Linked DNA regions of Homo sapiens. The protein of the gene in region 2 purifies or fractionates together with the protein of the main gene of each other region. This does not show direct contact. Each region holds a gene or a part of one and is shown on either strand. Other genes may lie near its edges.

Region 1 (2,824 bases), on a different chromosome or scaffold from region 2:
ACAGGTGAATAGACCTTGGTTCTACCCCCAAAAAGCTCAGCATCCAAAAAAAGCTGTCAAAATTAACCACAAAATGTAAAACAATTTCACAATTGCATGTAACATACTTTTTTAAAAACTCAGCCACCTTTGTAGAATAAATAAAAATACAATGTCAATAAAGCAAGATAACTACAAGGGGGCATCTGGGTTATTTTTTTTCTTTCCTGTTTCAAGTTGTTAAGTGAAATGACACTGCCTTAACGGTTGTTTGTCTTCACCAAACTAGAAAACACAGAGTCCTCTGGCCTAAGTACAAAACCTTTGATGGTCCAGTAAAGAGCCCTCCATTGGTGCTCTTCAATTTGCAAATTAGGCCTTAAATTCTACTGAAGATCATCATCTGATTAAAAATAAAAAAATCAAGCACCATTTCCTTTGAGAAGTAGCTGAATGTTCATGGTATGGCCAACTTGTGTGATACAACATCAATTAAAACAGAGTCTGTCTAGCCTTAAGAATTTTACTATCTGGTAGTGGAGATGACAGAGGAACAGTAGTTAACAACCTTAGTGTTTCTAGGTGCTTACATAATTCCATCTCAAGACAGGTTAAATGTGACAAGAGGGAAAAAAGCAAATAGTTACAAGTGTCCACAGAAAGGAGGAAGTGATCATAACCAGTACTTAGGAAACAGGGATTACAGAGACAAAGGCAGAGTGCTAGGCAAGTACAAGATTCAGTCACGGACCAACAGGGAGTGGAGCACATTGCACCAGGCGCAAAGAGTATTCACCTAGCAAATAATTACAGGTAAGCTTTTAAAGATAAGAAGTGAGCATGAATAACTGTGAATGCCAGGCGAAAAAATGTGATCAAGTAAGATGACTTTGCAGCAACACAACTGCTCACTCCCTCCCCTTCTTGAAATACTCTCAAGTTTCCAGGTATCAGAGTGTCCTGGTATTCCTCATACCTCTCTAGCACCTTCTTCTTAGTCTTCTTCGCCCGCTCGAAATCAGTGGTACTCGGTACTCAAGACGTGGTTCCTGAACCGGCAGCATCTGTATCACTGAAAGAGTGGGCCTCACTCAGACATAATCAAAAGTTGGGGACCAGGCTCAGCACTTCTGTTTTACCAAATCCTCTGAATGTTTACAATGAACACTAATGTCTGAGACCAATGCACTATAGGAGTCCTTCAATGAGCACCTTCTCATTCTACACTCTCCCTACATCCATCCTCTCCCAGGGCTTTAAATAACAGCCAGGGCTCACTAATCAATCAGAAGTACCATCTCTAAGCCCAAACACCTTTGCTGAGTTCCAGACGACATACCCAGCTTCCCATTTGATATTTCCTCTCAGATATCTCATCCAAACACATCTCTAAACATGTCTGAACTACTGGCTGTCCTCCAAACACCTCAAAAAAAAAAAAAAAAATCTGTTCCTTCCTTATGTTCCCAAACGGTACTTTCACCTGAGAGATACATAAGCAAGTAATTCCTAACACTTCCTATGACCACCACAAGGTCTTCCCATTTAAGCATTATCATCTTCATCCCCACTGTCATCATTTTAACCTTATAATTTGTATACCTCTCTATACAGCAATCAGCATGATCTTGTAAAAATACAAATCAGAGCATGTCACTGCCCCAATTCAAACCCTTCAATAGCTTCCTGTTGCATTTCAGATAAAACCTAAACTCCTCAGCATGGTATACTAAGCCCCGGACCCTGGTCACCTTGCCAACATCATCTTGGATCTCTCTTACATGTGATTCATTCATTGTAGTCCACAGCTCTGAGCATATTTCAGTTTCTGAAACTTCCTTCCCTCACACAGAGACTTCAGTCTTCATGACATACTTCAAATCACCCCAACCTCACACCTCTGTTTTTACCTAACTTTCTTCATCCTTCAGGTTTCTGCTAAAAGATCAAAAAGGCCTTCCTTGACCCCCCAGTCTAAACTGAATTCTCTCATAAAACCCTGAGCATTGTCTTCACGACACATATAAAAAATTTTAACTATAGTAACTTGGTGATTTTTGTTGGCTTGTTTAGCTTTTACCTTCCACACTAATCTGTAAGTTTCATAGGCCAGAAGAATACCTCCACTATTGTCCTCTACTATGTTAAGTAGCACCTAGCAGTGCTTAGCACACCAAAGGCATTTAATGAAGTTGTGTAGTAGTAACAGTTGTTGATATTTTTATTCGATCCTTCCCTTTTTTCTATCCTCTCTATCTTCTCTTCGGAATGTGAACTTACAAGTTACTGGGCAGCCACAGATGCTTTCTGCAAATGAGATATAATGCTTAAATCTATCATTTCCCTACTAATTTATAGTGCAAAATCAGATGTATAGTACAACCTTCCTGAAAAATTAACAACGAGAACTGGCTAATACTTAGCTTATCTAAGCATTTAACTCTAAGAGAAATACTGAGCTATTTTTAAAGAACCCTGTAGTAAATTCCTGGCCTCCAATTACTAACAATCCAATAACCCCCAACACCCATCTCAGTAAATCTTACCCACATCACCATATTCACACTATCATTCCTACCCAGCCCCCATAACCTCGTGATTACATTATCTCAACAAGTTATCTCTGCTCTCCCAGTCTCAACACCCCATTTTAGGTCCATTTTGTACCAAGGACATTTAGGGAAAACAATGTCCCCTACTCAAAAACCAACTTATTATCAATCAGTATTAAATTCCTCAGACTAGCACCAAAGGCTTGTTATGGTGATGCATGTGGTCAACAAGCCAACCCCAGGTTTTAGTAAAAACTTGGAAGGTTACATTGAATTAATTATATGAGCCTGAC
Region 2 (2,729 bases):
AATCCAGTGTTAAACTGGCTCTGAGGATTCTGGTTGGGATGTTAGTGTGGCACTGAGAATTCCGGGATAGAATGTTAGGGTAACTGAGACTTCTGGAATCGAATGTTATTCTGGCTTTGAGAATTCTGGAAGACTTGCAGTGATTCTGAGAATTCTGGGATGGATTCTAGGCTGGTACTAAGAATTCTGGGATAGGCTATTAGGCTGGTGCTGAGATGGCTGGTGGGAAGTTAGTCTTAGAAAATACGCAGGAAGGCCGGGCACAGTGGCTCACGCCTGTGATCCTAGCACTTTGGGAAGCCAAGGCCGGTAGATGGCCTGAGGTCAAGAGTTCGAGACCACCCTGGCTCTCTCAAAATAAAAAAAAGTGAAACCCCGTCTCTACTCAAAATAAAAAATTAGCTGGGCGTGGTGGTGGGCACCTGTAGTCTTAGCTTCCCTGGAGGCTGAGGCAGGAGAATCAGTTGAACCCAGGAGGTGGAGCTTGCAGTGAGCCAAGATGGTACCACTGCACTCCAGCCTGGGCGACAGAGCAAGACTGTCTCCAAAAAAGAAAAAAAAAACAGGCCAGGCGCGGTGGCTCACGCCTGTAATCCCAGCAGTTTGGGAGGCCAAGACGGATGGATCACGAGGTCAGGAGATCGAGACCATCCTGACTAACACAGTGAAACCCCGTCTCTACTGAAAATACAAAAAAATTAGCTGGGCGTGGTGGCGGGCGCCTGTAGTCCCAGCTACTCAGGAGGCTGAGGCAGGAGAAAGGCGTGAACCCGGGAGGCGGAGCTTGCAGTGAGGCGAGATCGTGCCACTGCACTCCAGCCTGGGCGACAGAGCGAGACTCTGTCTCAAAAAAAAAACAAAAACATATATATATATATATATATAGAGAGAGAGAGAGAGAGAGAGAGAGAGAAAGAGAGAGAGAGAGAGATATTAATATGACTGAGAATTTTGAGTGAGATAGTAGTTTTCTCAGAATGATGGGTGGGACGTTGGGATGACCGAGAATTCTGGAATGGATTCTTAGACTGGTGTGGAGAAATCTAAGCTGGAATGTTATGCTGACTCTGAAAATTCGTGGGTAGAGTGCTGGGTGGGTTGGAAAATTCTGGGTAGCATTAGGTTATAAAAACTCTGGAGGATATGAATCTAGTCTACAAATTCTGAGATGGATTGTTAGGCTGGCACTGAGGATTGTGGGTGAGATGTTACACTAGGGTAGATAATCCCAGTGTAGGATATTAGAGTAGGTCTGAGAAGTATGTGTTATTAGTCGGGAGTTAGAATTCTGGGATAGATGGCTGGGCGCGGAGGCTCATGTTGGTAATCCCAGCACTCTAGGAGGCTAAGGGAGGTGGATCACGAGGTCAGGAGACCAATAACAACCCATCCTGGCTAACATGGTGAAACCCCGTCTCTACTAAAAATACACAAAAAATTAGCCGGGTGTGGTGGTGGGTGCCTGTAGTCCCAGCTACTCGCGAGGCTGAGGCAGAATAATGGTGTGAACCCGGGAGGCGGAGCTTGCAGTGAGCCAAGGTCGCGCCACTGCACTCCAGCCTGGGCGACAGAGCGAGACTTTGTCTTAAAAAAAAAAAAAAAAGAATTCTGGGGTAGATGGGATGGTTAGGATAGGGCTGAGAATTCTGGGATAGATGGTTAGGATGGGGCCAATAATTCTGGGATAGATGGTTAGGATGGGGCCGAGAATTCTGGGGTAGGTGGTTAGGATGGGGCCGAGAATTCTGGGGTAGATGGTTAGGATGGGGCTGGGAATTCTGGGATAGCTGGTTAGGATGGGGCTGGGAATTCTGGGGTAGGTGGTTAGGATGGGGCTGGGAATTCTGGGATAGCTGGTTAGGATGGGGCTGGGAATTCTGGGGTAGGTGGTTAGGATGGGGCTGGGAATTCTGGGGTGGGTGGTTAGGATGGGGCCAGGAATTCTGGGGTGGGTGGTTAGGATGAGACCGAGAATTCTGGGGTAGGTGGTTAGGATGGGACTGAGAATTCTGAGGTAGGTGGTTAGGATGGGGCCAAGAATTCTGGGGTAGGTGGTTAGGATGGGACCGAGAATTCTGGGGTAGGTGGTTAGGATGGGACCGAGAATTCTGGGGTAGGTGGTTACGATGGGGCTGAGAATTCTGGGATAGGATAGGTGGTTAGGATGAGACTGAGAATTCTGGGGTAGGTGGTTAGGATGGGGCCGAGCATTCAGGGATAGGTGGTTAGGATGGGGCTGAGAATTCTGGGGTAGGTGGTTAGGATGGTGCTGAGAATTCTGGGGTAGGTGGTTAGGATGGTGCTGAGAATTCTGGGATAGGTGGTTAGGATGGGGCTGAGAATTCTGGGATAGATAGTTAGGATGGGGCTGAGAATTCTGGGGTAGGTGGTTAGGATGGTGCTGAAAATTTTGGGGTAGGTGGTTAGGATGGGGCTGGGAATTCTGGGGTAGGTGGTTAGGATGGGGCTGAGAATTCTGGGATAGATGGTTAGGATGGGGCTGGGAATTCTGGGATAGATGGTTAGGATGGGGCTGGGAATTCTGGGGTAGATGGTTAGGATGGGGCTGGGAATTCTGGGGTAGAATTTTGGGTGACATTGAGAATCTGAGCCAGGCCAGAAGGCACAGTGGAAGCATCACTGGTCAGGCCCAGCCTCCTCTGTCCTTTGAGGAGACTCTAGTTGTCTCTCCTGATCTGCAGCCTGGGGGAAACTGAGGCACAGATCTG

The links. The genes of interacting proteins can lie anywhere in the genome.
Region 1: the proteins of PRR12 (region 2) and BMP2K purify together in Homo sapiens (affinity purification with mass spectrometry, with the first as the bait; one large-scale study listed by BioGRID). This does not show direct contact.

The regions. Positions count from the first base shown.
Region 1 is NC_000004.12:78,780,026-78,782,849, reverse strand, and holds part of BMP2K (BMP-2-inducible protein kinase), read right to left. Parts: exon of another isoform or gene 956-2,824; intron 1-955. UniProt on the Homo sapiens protein: May be involved in osteoblast differentiation.
Region 2 is NC_000019.10:49,622,045-49,624,773, forward strand, and holds part of PRR12 (proline-rich protein 12), read left to right. Parts: intron 1-2,729.